Linked DNA regions of Homo sapiens. The protein of the gene in region 3 interacts with the protein of the main gene of each other region in a pairwise test. Each region holds a gene or a part of one and is shown on either strand. Other genes may lie near its edges.

Evidence for each region. Proteins that work in one complex are often made in the same cells at the same time.
Region 1: the proteins of MYOC (region 3) and RFC1 interact in a two-hybrid assay, tested with the Homo sapiens proteins (one study listed by BioGRID).
Region 2: the proteins of MYOC (region 3) and COL1A2 interact in a two-hybrid assay, tested with the Homo sapiens proteins (one study listed by BioGRID).
Region 4: the proteins of MYOC (region 3) and HAGH interact in a two-hybrid assay, tested with the Homo sapiens proteins (one study listed by BioGRID).

The regions. Positions count from the first base shown.
Region 1 is NC_000004.12:39,307,363-39,310,862, forward strand, and holds part of RFC1 (replication factor C subunit 1), read right to left. Parts: intron 1,671-3,500; coding exon 1,274-1,670; intron 1-1,273. UniProt on the Homo sapiens protein: Subunit of the replication factor C (RFC) complex which acts during elongation of primed DNA templates by DNA polymerases delta and epsilon, and is necessary for ATP-dependent loading of proliferating cell nuclear antigen (PCNA) onto primed DNA.
Region 2 is NC_000007.14:94,404,895-94,408,394, reverse strand, and holds part of COL1A2 (collagen alpha-2(I) chain precursor), read right to left. Parts: intron 3,197-3,500; coding exon 3,143-3,196; intron 2,723-3,142; coding exon 2,669-2,722; intron 2,146-2,668; coding exon 2,092-2,145; intron 549-2,091; coding exon 504-548; intron 213-503; coding exon 159-212; intron 60-158; coding exon 15-59; intron 1-14. UniProt on the Homo sapiens protein: Type I collagen is a member of group I collagen (fibrillar forming collagen).
Region 3 is NC_000001.11:171,634,917-171,640,196, reverse strand, and holds the end of MYOC (myocilin precursor), read left to right. Parts: intron 1-1,474; coding exon 1,475-1,600; intron 1,601-3,487; coding exon 3,488-4,272; 3' UTR 4,273-4,780; downstream 4,781-5,280. UniProt on the Homo sapiens protein: Secreted glycoprotein regulating the activation of different signaling pathways in adjacent cells to control different processes including cell adhesion, cell-matrix adhesion, cytoskeleton organization and cell migration.
Region 4 is NC_000016.10:1,809,826-1,813,325, forward strand, and holds part of HAGH (hydroxyacylglutathione hydrolase, mitochondrial isoform 1 precursor), read right to left. Parts: intron 9-3,500; coding exon 1-8. UniProt on the Homo sapiens protein: Thiolesterase that catalyzes the hydrolysis of S-D-lactoyl-glutathione to form glutathione and D-lactic acid.

The DNA.
Region 1 (3,500 bases), on a different chromosome or scaffold from region 3:
GTTTTCAACCTACTGCCAGCGGGCATGAAGACAGGGACTAGAGTTCACCCGAAGCTTTAAAACAGTCTTCTTGGCTGGGTGCGGTGGCTCACGCCTGTAATCTCAGCACCTGGGGAGGCCAAGGCGGGTAGAGCACAAGGTCAGGAGTTCAAGACCAGCCTGGCCAGCATGGTGAAATCCCATCTCTACTAAAACTACAAAAAATTAGCCAGGCATGGTGGTGTGCACCTGTAGTCTCAGCTGCTCAGGAGGCTGAGACAGAAGAATCACCTGAACCCAGGAAGCAGAGGTTGCAGTGAGCCAAGATCGCACCACTGCACTCCAGCCTGGGCAACAGAGCAAGACTCTGTCTCAAAACAAAACAAAACAAAACAAAAAAAAAACAGTCTTCTCCAGGCACATGAAATGCCTGTCTCCTCTTTTAAGGGAGATTTTATGAAGTTTCAGAATGAAAAAAGTGATTTAACTTAAATTTAGTCCTGTATCATTACAATATATTATTTTTATAAATAAACAGGCATCATTGGCAATGATGATTGGCAATCTAGTCATCACTGGTCTATGTTGAAAACACTACTAAAACATTTGTGATCTCAAAGCTCAGTTAAGAAAATACTTTGGACATTAAATACATATTGGAGCTTTTCACTCTCCACGACAAATAATACATCATAAACAAGGACAGAAACTACAGAAGCACAGGCCTATCGGGCCTGCCACAGCAAATCGTGCTTGCTACTGGGAGTTTAGGCTGACTGCCCTGCACGCATGCCTCTGTTATTTATTCACAGCTTTCCTCCTAGTGCCCTTGCCACTCAGGGGTCTTGCTGTCACATGGCTTCAGACCTTGGGACACATACTCTTTCCTACCCAACACTCATCTCTCCCTCCCTTCACCTAGCTAGCTCCTACTTTGTTTCCAAGTCTTAGCTTAGCCATCCCTTCCTCTGGGATGGGAGCACACACACCCTGGCCCTGACCACACATCTTCATCCTCACAGCACCCTGGACTTACCCCTCTAGCAGTACTTGGCAAATATATTTTAATGGCTGGTTCAGATATGCCTCCCCCACTGCCTGTGAGCTCCTGAGAGGGACTGTTTTGTTCACAACACCACCAGCAGGGTCTAGTACTGCACCTGGGTTCAGATCAAGCTCTTAATAAATGCTTGCTGACAGATGAATGAATCGTTAGATTTTCTCATATATGTGCCACTGAGCAATCACATGTTGATATACACACACACAAAAATGAGTGAGGTTGTAAAATCACCGTGTTTTTTATCTTCGGAAGAACTCTTTTGCCAGTTTCGGAGCCAGCGTAGGAGTTTGTTGGCACAGCTCTGGTCACCTTGCTGTCCAATTATGGTCTTGAGCGAGGTTGGCTTATATTTATCCACCCAGAGCAAATTTTCCACTTTGTTTTCACTGCTGTCATCAGCCAAATTCCTAGCCTTGCTGTCACCACTTGTCTCCTCAGCCACCTGCTCCTTGAAATCCAGGCTTTTCCAAAACACATCTGTTTCCTTTTTTATTGTCTTTGCCAAACTGTCCCTTTTGGAAGTCGGCCTGCTCTTTTTAGATTCTGATTCCTTTTTAGATGGACTAATTTTTCTTTTTCCTTGGACATTTTTTTGGGGTGTTCTCTCCAGTTTGGACTCTTTCTTCATCTTAAGAAGTGGAAAAATGAGGAAAAAAGAAACCTGATGAAACATACAGAATTTCTATCCTGCTAAACGTACTACAGAGAGCAATCAGAGATATCCAAGTGGGCTACTCAACCTGGGCTGGTCTTTTCACAACAGACTTTCCTGTTTGTGGAAATCACCACCTTCTAAACTATAAAAATTAACAAACACACCAGAAACCACCAAATGCAATTTCTAAAAGTGACAACACGTTGATTTTTAAAAGTAATAAGTACTCCAATTTTAGTTTGAAAAAAACAAGGTACAGTGTTGAGATTTTTGTTTCAAAGTTTCCTAATTAAAAGTTAATGCCTCGACAAAAACTTGTACACAAATGTTCATAACCACATTATAGCTAAAAGATGGAAACAATCCAAATGTCCATCAACTGAAAAAGAAACAAAATAGGATGTGTCCACACAATGAAATATTATTTACCCCTAACAAGGACTGAAGCACTGATACATGCTACAACCCAGGTCAACCTTGAAACCACTATGCTAAGTGGAAGAAGCCAGACACAAAAGGCCATATATTCTAATGTCTCCATACACACGTGAAACGTCCAGCATAGGAAAATCCATAGAGACAGAGCAGAGCAGTGAGTGCCACGGGGTGGATAGAATGAGTGGCTGCTGATAGGTACAGGGTTTCTTTTCAGGGTGAGGAAAATGTTCTGGAATTACACAGTGCTAATGGTTGTATACTCTTGTTAATATACTAAAAACCACTGATTTGTATACTTTATAAGGGTGGATTTTATAGTATGTAATATCTCAGTTTTTAAAAAAATTAGTGCCTCTTTAGCAGTGGATGCTAAAATTAGTGGATGAATGTTTAAGGACAAACAGGATATAAGCATAAGTACCTCCTTCTCCTGCCAAGACAGTTATCGATTACAAAGGAAAAAATAGTCACTTTACTAGTGAAGGAACCCAGCACTAGTTTCAGTGGGATGCTGAATCATCTTAACCAAATAATCAAGATTATCCTCACTAATAATAAGACGTTATTGACATCCTGTATCTATGATAGGATGCACTGAGGACACAAGATCACATCCATGGTGTTCTTAGAAAAAAGGCATAACCTCAACCTAATCATGAGAAAACATCACAGATCCAAACTGAGAGACATTCCACAAAACTGACCAGTACTCATTAAAAGTGTCAAGGTTGTAAGAAGACAAGGAAAGACTGAAGAAATGTCATCGACGGGAGAAGACTAAGAAGACACAACTAAATGCAGTGTGGGACCCTGGAACAGAAGAACTACAGGGAAAAATGTAAGGTTCGAAAAATATGTACAGGTTAGTTAACAATACGGCATCAATGTTAATTTCCTGGTTTTTATAACTATGCTATGGTTATGTAATCGAAATCATTCCCTAGATTTCTCTAACCGGAATAACCTGGATGGACCATCTTGCCATTTGGGTGACAGAGCTGGGGACATTAAAATCTTGGAATGCTGGCAATCCTGTGTCCTGTGTGTAAAAAAAGATGGTCTACAGTGGGAATGAATGAGGCTAACTAGTAGAAACAGAGAGACAGAAACTGAAGGGGTCCTCACAGCTTTGTAGTCTGTGGATCCAATAGTTCCTAGACCAGACCCTCCCTGCCCATAGTTTAGTTATGTGAGCCAACATTTTTCCTTTTGCAAAAGCTAATACAGGCTAGGTGTCTGCACAATTTAAAAAGTCCTAATACAGTTCTAATTGAAAACAAATTTATCATGCTAATACCTATTAAAATATCCTTTAAGGAACTCTTAAACAATAACCTTTGCATAAAGTCAACGTGAGAATATGGC
Region 2 (3,500 bases), on a different chromosome or scaffold from region 3:
GTGTCAAAACTTACAGCAGGACCCACGGGACCCACACTTCCATCACTGCCACGGGCACCCTAAGAAGAAAATAAAGGGAAGATCAGGTGGAAACTTAAATGACAGCCATTAGAAGATTTTTTAAAAGGATGAAACTGAACAAAAATGGAAGCACTTACAGCTGGGCCAGGGGCACCAACACGTCCTCTCTCACCAGGAAGCCCACGGGCTCCCTAGAAGCAGAAATATTTTCAATAAAATCCAGAATGCTAATTTAAAAAAAGTCACAGGCATCATTTGCTTTGTTCAGTTTCCAACCTGTACAAGAATACACTAAAAATAAATAAGTTGCCTTCTAATTCCAACTAAACAGTAGTGGATTTCAATTAAGTATCAGAAGGCTATTAGAAAAACATCAAAGAATACAATGCTGAAGGATACAGTGATTAGCAAAAACATTAAAGAAGTTCCATCTCATAAAGAGTGTACACATTTAAATTTACAATGAAGTAGTCAATACTTACTGTTTGACCTGGAGTTCCATTTTCACCAGGGGCACCAGGTTCACCCTACATGGAGAAGGATTGAGTTTTTGTTCATTAAATATAACAATTATTTTTCCTGATAGTGCAATTTTACTCTATTTTTTTTACTTTGAACCATTCATATACTTCATAATATTTCTTACACATATAGATTGTTTTTCAATTATGCCAGACACACAGATTTTAAAATGTGCTAACATGAGTTTTTATTCAGATAGTACCACATATCCAGGTTCTAAGGAGATGTGGTTATTTGAGTGTACCTCCTCCCCAATTTCTCCCTTAGATTCAGGATATCAATTATATACTAGAAACAATATCATAAAAAGAGATGGCAAAGGATAAATTTGCTTTCAATGTAACCATATTTATCCTTTTTAAAGTTATTTTGAACACTCAGTGTTATCACTTTCATAAAATGTGCATGAAAAATTGAAGCTTCATGGTATTTTTTAGAGCCATCATATTTATTTCCAATCTATATTCTTATCCTGAGTAAAAACCAGGGTAGTAGTAGTAGTAGTAGTGGGATTTAATACTATGGCACATGTAAAAGAACTTTTTTTAAAGATAATCTGATTTAGATATAGGGGAAATATGGTTTAAGAGACCTCATAAGGACCCTTAATTTCCAGGATTCTATGTGAAGTCTATTCTTTGGGAATAAGCATTGAAGTGGCAAGGGGGGATCATTTCTAGCCTATGACTTTCTAACCTCTAGATGTGTGACTTTGGGCAAGTCAATTGCTCTCACGAAGCCTCAGTTTCCCACCTCTGCAAAATGAGGGGGTCTCCAAAGCTCCTTGCAGCTCTAACATTTTATGATACAGTGATTAGTAGTCTGAGCTGTTATATCGGGCTCTTGGGAGAATGAGTTTGACCTTATCCATTTGTGTGGCAGCTGGAAAGTTAGAATAGATTCTCCATATTCATGTTCATTTCTGGTCCCGCTAGTATTCGTTACTCATTAATTTGTAATTACGTTGGTATTCACTTTAATATCACATTATCTCCTTAATAGGAAAGAGAACATTTTATAGTTGAAAACGCTGTCAGAGAAGAGCCTAGCCAAGAGATAACACACTTCTGAGACTTTAATTACCTAATTAAAATTTTTTTGAGTGTGCACAGATAAATCACAGGAAAGAGGTTGAAAAGTGTATAGCGACATGAATGTACCTATCTAATTAGTGTGTGGCAAAGGAGAATTTACAGTTTAAAATAATACAGAGTGTCGTAATCTCTGATTATATGTTTATTTACTTTTATTTTGGCTGCAGAGATACACTGGAATTATAGAGGGAGGAAAGGAAATGGAACAAGAAACTATTAATATTATTTTTATCTCAATTGTTTAATAGATATTGAATTTTAATAAATATTAATAATTGACCTTTTTTCACAGACTCTCATAGTCCCCATCCTTGAGGGATTTGAAGTACAGGAAAGAAAAAAAATAAAAATACTTTTTGTAATATGGGTAGTCTTCAGTATAATATACTTTTTTGGAGGTCATGGGGAATTTCAATCAAGTGCTTAAAAACAGTGCTTCTAATTTAATATTTACCTTCACACCAGGAGCACCGGGCTGTCCCTTCAATCCATCCAGACCATTGTGTCCCTGAAAGGAAAGCCTTATTATAAAATGCTGTTCCATGATAGTGTTTGGTCAAATAAAAATTGTATTGTATATCTTTGCCATTAATCTCTCTTGGGTAAGTCTTGTCTGCTGCAGTAGAAAGAAGTCCAGTGTTCCAGGTCCCAGCAAACTCAGTCTATTGCCCTAGATAGGTCACTTAACTTTCTTGCCATTGAGAGAGAAGGATGGAGGACTAGGTGTTCTCTCACATCTTTTCCATCCTTAATAATTTTATGATTTTCAGACGGTTGTAAATACTCAATAAGTAATACATGTTCTATATAATTTTCTCTGTAGTGAGCCTGTTTTTTGGTAGCTATGAACAGACTGAAAAAATTGCACCCCACTTTACTTTCAAGAAATCTGACTCTTTAACTCTTTCTTCCCTTTGGCAAACTCCAGGGATTTGAAAGTGAGTATATGTCACCCAAGATTTTAAACATACTTGAGTTTTTTCCAAAAATTAATAGGCATTTTCTCTCTTCTGAGTAAAGAATGTGCTCACCCTAATGCCTTTGAAGCCAGGAAGTCCAGGAGTTCCAGGGAAACCACGAGCACCCTTAGAAAGAAATACAGAAGATGGTGAATAATGTTTTACCATAAATAAAAAGACAGTGACTTCTTCCCTCCAAAGTATTTATTCTCATCAAAGTTCAAGCTTTGAACCAAAGTCTAGTATACCTCTAAGCACAGAGTGACAAATTAACTTGCTCTAATGTGAGTAACTAATAATACGGTATTTGTAGAAAACACAATTTAGTTGCTTATGGTATGCTTGCTGTCATTTATATTCCATTATTTGCATGAATAAAATGTATATGCATTTTTTTTTAACTAGGCTTTTTTCTTTATTAGATGCCTTCGATTCATGTTATGAGTTTGGGTGACATCTATGTTGTCATTTAGATTGATGCTAGTTTTAGCAACTATCTTATAGGCCTATGATGTTTGTGCTATCTACCAATGTAAAAAGTCTCACCTGTGGTCCAACAACTCCTCTCTCACCAGGTCGTCCGGGTTTTCCAGGGTGACCCTAAACATGAAAACATTGTAGAGTCAACTTCTTCTTGGTAAACTATCAGACAAAATGGGGGAATCTTGGTTTTTACAAAAGGGGAGAAAGTTATCACATAAAAATATGGATCCAGATATATATTTAATCTTTCCCTTAATACAAGTAGGTTAGTTAATATTTCATTAAAATAATATTTCCCATACATTAAGAGTTCTGTCAGGCATATTCAGCTTTTGGCAGAATACTTAATTTGAATCTAGAAAATCTTGTTGAGGCAAGAGTATTTAAATAGCATTTTGAAAGTGCTTAAGAGTAAATACTT
Region 3 (5,280 bases):
ATATTTCTACTGAAAGTATAAAGCTTAATATGTTACTTCTTACAAGAATATTTGCATATAACAAGGGAAAAAACCTTAAGTCATGCAGTAAACTTTTATCTTTTTTTTTTTTTTAACAGGAGTCTCCCTATGTTGCCCAAGCTGGTCTTGAACACCTGGGCTCAAGTACTCCTCCTGTCTTGGCCTCCCAAAGTGCTGGGATTACAGACATGAGCCACACTTCTTTTTTTTTTTTTTTTTTTTTTTTTTTCTTGAGACAGAGTCTTGCTCTGTTGCCCAGACTGGAGTACAGTTGCACAATCCCGGCTCCCTGCAACCTTTGCCTCCTGGGTTCAAGTGATCCTCAACCTCCTGAGTATCTGGAACTACAGGCATGTGCCACCACACCCTGCTAATTCTTGTATTTCTAGTAAAGATGGAATTTCACCACGCTGGCCAGGCTAGTCTTGAACTCCTGGCCTTAAGTGATCCGCCTGCCTCGGCCTCCCAAAGTGCTGGGATTTCAGTGTGAGCCACTGTGCCCGGTCTCTTTTTTTTTTTTTTTGAGACCTTGAGACCGGGCCTTGCTCTGTTACCCAAGCTGGAGTGCAGTGGCAGGATCATAGCTCACTGCAGCCTTGAACTTCTGGGCTCAAGCAATCCTCCCACATCAGCCTCCCAAGTACCTAGGACTGCAGATGCTTACCACCATGCCCAGCTAATTTTTCATGAATTTTTAATTATTGAAATTCAGACATCTAAGAAGATGCTGAGGACTGTCTCCATATTCCTGAAATTACGACTCACCTATTCACAAACCAGCCCTTCTAGTGGAATTAAAATATTATTTGATTTTGAATACCCTACTCTAAGGTAGGCACATTGCCCTGCAATTTATTATTTATGAGGTTTTTAATTATGGAATTGTTCAAATATTCACAAAAGTAGAGAGACTACAATGAACTCCAATGTAGCCATCACTCAGGCCCAACTGTTATCAGCACAGTCCAATCATGTTTTATCTTCCCTTCTCTGACCCCCAACCCATCCCCAGTCCTTATCTAAAATCAAATCTCAAACACCATATCTTTGGGAGCCTATTTATTTAGTTAGTTAGTTTTCAGACAGAGTTTCTTTCTTGTTGCCCAAGCTGGAGTACAATAGTGTAGTCTCGGCTCACAGCAATCTCCCCCTCCTTGGTTCAAGCAATTCTCCTGCCTCAGTCTCCCAAGAAGCTGGGATTATAGGCACCTGCCACCACATCCAGCTAATTCTTTTGTGTTTTTAGCAAAGACAGGGTTTCACCATGTTGGCCAGGCTGGTCTCGAACTCCTGACCTCAGGTGATCCGCCTGCCTCGGCCTCCCAAAGTGCTGGGATTACAGGCATGAGCCACCACGCCTGGCCGGCAGCCTATTTAAATGTCATCCTCAACATAGTCAATCCTTGGGCCATTTTTTCTTACAGTAAAATTTTGTCTCTTTCTTTTAATGCAGTTTCTACGTGGAATTTGGACACTTTGGCCTTCCAGGAACTGAAGTCCGAGCTAACTGAAGTTCCTGCTTCCCGAATTTTGAAGGAGAGCCCATCTGGCTATCTCAGGAGTGGAGAGGGAGACACCGGTATGAAGTTAAGTTTCTTCCCTTTTGTGCCCACGTGGTCTTTATTCATGTCTAGTGCTGTGTTCAGAGAATCAGTATAGGGTAAATGCCCACCCAAGGGGGAAATTAACTTCCCTGGGAGCAGAGGGAGGGGAGGAGAAGAGGAACAGAACTCTCTCTCTCTCTCTGTTCCCTTGTCAGAGCAGGTCTGCAGGAGTCAGCCTTTCCCTAACAAAGCCCTCTATCCTATCACCCACACTTGGGAGGCTGGGCTGGGCTGCACAGGGCAAGATGAGAGATGTGTTGATTTCATCCACTTGATTGTCATGTAGAATTAGATATACTTGAGAAGTTACATTTTTCAGTAGCGCCTTCATATCTTTATTTTAGGGACAGGTATACACCAAGCACCATCTCAGCCACAATCTGTTACTAACAGTATGTTTTCTGAACTTTGGCCACTTAGGAAAAGTACAGTTTGGCTCTCTCCAAAGTGTTCCCTGAAAGTCCAACTTTATGACTAATACTGTGATTTCCAGAAACTTTGACTATCCATGTTATTGACAATGATTACTAGCACTGAAGGGCATGCATGCAAGTAGGGGTTATGAAATATTTAAAACACGGTTCTCTAAGATATGAGCAGCAAAGTGTTTCTACCTTCTATGAGGGAACCGAAGGTGCCATTAAAAGTAGAGAAATCTGGACCAGGCATGGTGGCTCATGCCTGTAATCCCAGCACTTTGGGAGGCTGAGGCGGGCGGATCACTTGAGGTCAGGAGTTCAAGACCAGCCTGGCCAACATGGTGAAACACTGTCTCTACTAAAAATACAAAAATTAGCCAGGCATGGTGGCAGTCATCTGTAATCCCAGCTACTTGGGAGGCTGAGGCAGGAAAATTGCTTGAACCCAGGAGGCAGAGGTTGCAGTGAGCCGAGATCACACCACTGCCCTCCAGCCTGGGCGACAGAGTGAGACTCTGTCTCAAAAAAAAAAAAAATACAGACATCTGTTGTGATTCTGGTAACTCTAAATTTTCAACCGTCTCTTCACTACATTTAAAAAATTATTTTCTAAACCAAATTAGCCAGGTGTGGTAGCAGGCACCTGTAGTCCCAGCAACTCAGGAGGCTGAGATGGGAGGGGTGCTTGAGCCTGGAAGGTCGAGGCTGCAGTGCACTGTGATTGCACCACTGCACTCCAGCCTAGGTAACAGTGCAAGACCCTGTCTCAAAAAATAATTATTTTCATGTTTATTATATTAAAATGATGTATGAAATATGTGACTCATCAGGGCTTGAAAAACTTTGTTGTATGGAGATTATTCTTATGAGTTGATTTTTCTCTCTCCTACCTTATAGTAATGAAATAAACCAGGCATGAAAGTCACAATAAGTAATACAATGAACACCCATGGGTCCCTGCCCAGCTTAAGTAGAATATTACAAATGCAGTTGAAGCCCTCTGTGCAACTTTCATCCTTACAACTGATACTGAGTGAATTGTACTTTAAATATTTTATAGCTCCCACTCCCATGCATGCCCCTCAGTGATAGCAATAATTGTCAATAACATGAAACACAGATTGATCATATAGCATTTACCATATATTTACTCTATACCAAGCACTTAACATATATAATTACATTTAAAATTTACAACAGCCCTACTACCCAAAACACTATTAGTATCCCCTTTTACAAATGCGATAACTGAGGCGTAGAGAGCTAAGTAACTTACTGAAAGTCACACAGCCAGCGGGTGGTAGAGCCTAGCTTTAAACCCAGACGATTTGTCTCCAGGGCTGTCACATCTACTGGCTCTGCCAAGCTTCCGCATGATCATTGTCTGTGTTTGGAAAGATTATGGATTAAGTGGTGCTTCGTTTTCTTTTCTGAATTTACCAGGATGTGGAGAACTAGTTTGGGTAGGAGAGCCTCTCACGCTGAGAACAGCAGAAACAATTACTGGCAAGTATGGTGTGTGGATGCGAGACCCCAAGCCCACCTACCCCTACACCCAGGAGACCACGTGGAGAATCGACACAGTTGGCACGGATGTCCGCCAGGTTTTTGAGTATGACCTCATCAGCCAGTTTATGCAGGGCTACCCTTCTAAGGTTCACATACTGCCTAGGCCACTGGAAAGCACGGGTGCTGTGGTGTACTCGGGGAGCCTCTATTTCCAGGGCGCTGAGTCCAGAACTGTCATAAGATATGAGCTGAATACCGAGACAGTGAAGGCTGAGAAGGAAATCCCTGGAGCTGGCTACCACGGACAGTTCCCGTATTCTTGGGGTGGCTACACGGACATTGACTTGGCTGTGGATGAAGCAGGCCTCTGGGTCATTTACAGCACCGATGAGGCCAAAGGTGCCATTGTCCTCTCCAAACTGAACCCAGAGAATCTGGAACTCGAACAAACCTGGGAGACAAACATCCGTAAGCAGTCAGTCGCCAATGCCTTCATCATCTGTGGCACCTTGTACACCGTCAGCAGCTACACCTCAGCAGATGCTACCGTCAACTTTGCTTATGACACAGGCACAGGTATCAGCAAGACCCTGACCATCCCATTCAAGAACCGCTATAAGTACAGCAGCATGATTGACTACAACCCCCTGGAGAAGAAGCTCTTTGCCTGGGACAACTTGAACATGGTCACTTATGACATCAAGCTCTCCAAGATGTGAAAAGCCTCCAAGCTGTACAGGCAATGGCAGAAGGAGATGCTCAGGGCTCCTGGGGGGAGCAGGCTGAAGGGAGAGCCAGCCAGCCAGGGCCCAGGCAGCTTTGACTGCTTTCCAAGTTTTCATTAATCCAGAAGGATGAACATGGTCACCATCTAACTATTCAGGAATTGTAGTCTGAGGGCGTAGACAATTTCATATAATAAATATCCTTTATCTTCTGTCAGCATTTATGGGATGTTTAATGACATAGTTCAAGTTTTCTTGTGATTTGGGGCAAAAGCTGTAAGGCATAATAGTTTCTTCCTGAAAACCATTGCTCTTGCATGTTACATGGTTACCACAAGCCACAATAAAAAGCATAACTTCTAAAGGAAGCAGAATAGCTCCTCTGGCCAGCATCGAATATAAGTAAGATGCATTTACTACAGTTGGCTTCTAATGCTTCAGATAGAATACAGTTGGGTCTCACATAACCCTTTACATTGTGAAATAAAATTTTCTTACCCAACGTTCTCTTCCTTGAACTTTGTGGGAATCTTTGCTTAAGAGAAGGATATAGATTCCAACCATCAGGTAATTCCTTCAGGTTGGGAGATGTGATTGCAGGATGTTAAAGGTGGTGTGTGTGTGTGTGTGTGTGTGTGTAACTGAGAGGCTTGTGCCTGGTTTTGAGGTGCTGCCCAGGATGACGCCAAGCAAATAGCAGCATCCACACTTTCCCACCTCCATCTCCTGGTGCTCTCGGCACTACCGGAGCAATCTTTCCATCTCTCCCCTGAACCCACCCTCTATTCACCCTAACTCCACTTCAGTTTGCTTTTGATTTTTTTTTTTTTTTTTTTTTTTTTTTGAGATGGAGTCTCGCTCTGTCACCCAGGCTGGAGTGCAGTGGCACGATCTCGGCTCACTGCAAGTTCCGCCTCCCAGGTTCACACCATTCTCCTGCCTCAGCCTCCCAAGTAGCTGGGACTACAGGCGCCTGCCACCACGCCTGGCTAATTTTTTTTT
Region 4 (3,500 bases), on a different chromosome or scaffold from region 3:
TACTTCTCCTGCAAGAGAAACGCACCACTTTATCACGGGAACTTCACAGGATGGCAGACCAGGCACGGAGGCTCACGTCTGTGATACCAGCACTTTGGGAGGCTAAGGCAGATGGATCACTTGAGCCCTGGAGTTTGAGACCAGCCTGGACAACATGGCGAGACCCTGTGTCTACTAAAAATACAAAAAACTAGCCAGGCATGGTGGCAGGCACCTGTGGTCCCAGCTACTCAGGGGGCTGAGGTGGGAGGATCGCTTGAGCACAGGTCGAGGCTACAGTGAGCCAAGACTGTGCTACTGCCCTCCAGCCTGGGTGACAGCGACATCACGTCTCAAAAAATGCTTCAGAACACCTCCTGGTAACCTTAGGACACTGCCCGACTGACAAGGCTGAGAAGGCAAGGTGAGCAGAGCCCGGCGGGTGTGCGCGTGTGGAAGAGGGAAGAGAAGCCAGCGTCCGGGATGAGCCACACATCCGCCTTCCCGCACCGGCCTGGAGAGGACGACAGGGACGGAGCTTCCTTTTCATTCACATGGTTTACATTTCACATTATGGAGGTAACAGCAATGCAGGAGACACAGAAAAGAAACCGCCACAGCTGCAGCCTCACAGCAAGCACGGGGAGGAGGGGCACAGGGACCAGCAGCAGGGGAGGCCACCCAAGCCCCTGCAGGCAGGCAGCTGGTCACCTCCTCTCGAGATGGAGATGGTCTCCCTTCCGACCAGCACTGACCAGGGCAGATGGGGTGGGGGCGGGGGGAGGAGAATGCAAACCCAGCCACGGGGCCAACAGTTAGCAGGAAAACACAGGGCGGCAACAGCGGGGTCTCCACACAGCCCCGGCCCTTCTACCGCAGCCGCACCAGGAGGGCCTCAGGGCAGAGCTCTGACAGAAGCTGCTGGTGCCCACGCACAGGCTCAAGACCACCGCGCCTCACCCCCGAGGTTCCCCACCCGCTATGGGCAGTGGTGTCGGTGAGTGACTCTTCAGCTGGTAGAGCTGCACCAAGCGGGGGTCTGGTAGATGCCAAGATGGTTTCTCACTAATCTGTTCTTCCCTTCTGGCGAAAAGAATCTGAGAATGTTTTAAAATATTCCCTGTGTTCCCACCAACATTCTCAATCCTAAGAAATCTCCCTCTGCCTCCTACGAGGGAAGCAAAGTTAACACTTCTAAGGAGACCTTTAAAACAGAGGAAGTACAAATTGTCATAAGCTTTTAGGTTACCTATTAAAACGAGTTTTAATGTTCTAGCTATTTTTCCTACAAAGTACGAAGCATTTAAAGACAAAAATAAGGTCAGTCAGCCGAGCGCAGTGGCTCACGCCTGTAATCCTAACACTTTGGGAGGCCGAGGTGGGTGGATTGCCTGAACTCAGGAGTTCGAGACCAGCCTGGGCAACACGGTGAAACCCCATCTCTACTAAAATAGAAAAAATCAGCCGGGTGTGGTGGCGGGTGCCTGTAATCCCAGCTACTGGAGAAGCTGAGGCAGGAGAATCACTTGAACCCAGGAGGTGGAGGCTGCAGCGAGCCAAGACCATGCCACTGCACTCCAGCCTGGGCAGCAGAGCAAGACACTGTCTCCCAAAGAAAGAACAACAGGCCGGGCGCGGTTGCTCACACCTGTAATCCCAGCACTGGGGGAGGCTGAGGCAGGTGGATCACCTGAGGTCAGGAGTTTGAGACCGGCCTGGCCAACATGGTGAAACCCCGTCTCTACTAAAAATACAAAAATTAGCCAGACGTGGTGGCACATGTCTGTAATTCCAGCTACTTGGGAGGCTGAGGCAGGAGAATCGCTTGAACCCGGGAGGCGGAGGCTGCAGTAGTGAGCCGAGATCGCACCACTGCACTCCAGCTTGGGTGACAGAGTGAGACTCTGCCTCAAAAAAATAAAAATAAAAAAATAAGGTCAGTCCTTGCAGCACAGCTCAGAAGAGCTCCACCTCGTGTGGGTTCTGGACTCCAGGGTGCAAAAGGAGTTGAAAACTCTCAACGTCCCTCCTATGGGGATTGGTAAAATGATTTATGGGTGACACCCACGCAATAGTATATTTTACACCTATCAAAAAGAATGAGGCCGGGTGTGGTTGGCACATGCCTGTAATCCCAGCACTTTGGGAGGCCAAGGCAGGAGGATCACTTGAGCCCAGAAGTTCAAGACCAGCCTAGGCAACATCGTGTAAACCCCCTCTCTACCAAAAATACAAAAATTAACCAAGCATGATGGCACAGGCCTGTAGTCCCAGGTACGGGAGACTGAGGCAGCAGAATCGCCTGAACCCAGGAGGCGGAGGTTGCAGTGAGCCGAGATTGTGCCACTGCACTCCAGCCTGGGCAGCAGAGCAAGACGCTGTCTCTCCCCAACCAAAAAAAAAAAAAAAAAGAATGACAGGCCAGGCACAGTGGCTCACGCCTGTAATCCCAGCACTTTGGGAGGCTGAGGCGGGCAGATCACGAAGTCAGGAGTTTGAGATCAGCCTGGCCAACATGGTAAAACCCCATCTCTACTAAAAATATAAAAATTACCCAGGCATGGTGGCACATGCCTGTAGTCCCAGCTACTTGGGAGGCTGAGGCATGAGAATCGCTTGAACCCGGGAGGCAGGGGTTGCGGTGAGCCGAGATCGCGCCATTGCACTCCAGCCTGGGCGGCAAGAGCGAAACGCTGTCTCAAAAAAAAAAAAAAACAAAAAAAAAACACACAAATTGTCAAAATCAGGAATGAAAGCAGGAATATCATTACAGATCCAGCAGACATTTGGGGGGTGGGAGTTCATACTAAGTTTTAAAACTATACAAATTCCAAAAATAAAATACAGGAGAAAATTTTTTGACCTTGGGATAAACAAAGATTTCTTAGATGGGAGACAAAAAAGAATGAAGCATAAAAGAATCTATTGGACTTCATTAAAATTAAAAATGTTGGCTCAAAAGATACTGCTAAGAAAACCAGAGGCCGCAGAATGGGAGGCGCCCTGCAGGAGGCGGCCTCTCACCAGGGACTGGGCTCCAGCACCTCCTTTCAAACGGCTGGCTCCACCGCGTGGGCTGGCTCCACCGTGTGGTGTGCCGAAAGACACGGACCAGCTGGTGTGCCCACGCCTTCCCAGCAGGAAAGCAAACACCACAAGCACCGGGGAAGGGGAGTTTGGCAGTTTCTTTAAAAGTCAAACACACCTCCCGTCCAGCCCGGCCACTCCCTTCTCCTGGGTGTTCACACGGGGCTGCGGCTGGGATGTCCATCCCTCCAAACGCATGCTCAAATCTGATCCCCAATTAATGGAGGTGTTTGGATCATGGGGGGAATCCTTTGTGAACGGCTTGGTGCCCTGCTCCAAGTGCGAGTTTTTGCTGTTAGTTCCCACAGGATCTGGTTGTTTAAAAGAAACTTTTGCCTCCCCCACTCTCTCCTTCCTCTGGCCACATGCTTCACACCCACCAGCTCCTTTCGCCTTCTGCCATGAGCAGAAGCAGCCTGAGGCCTCACCAGGTG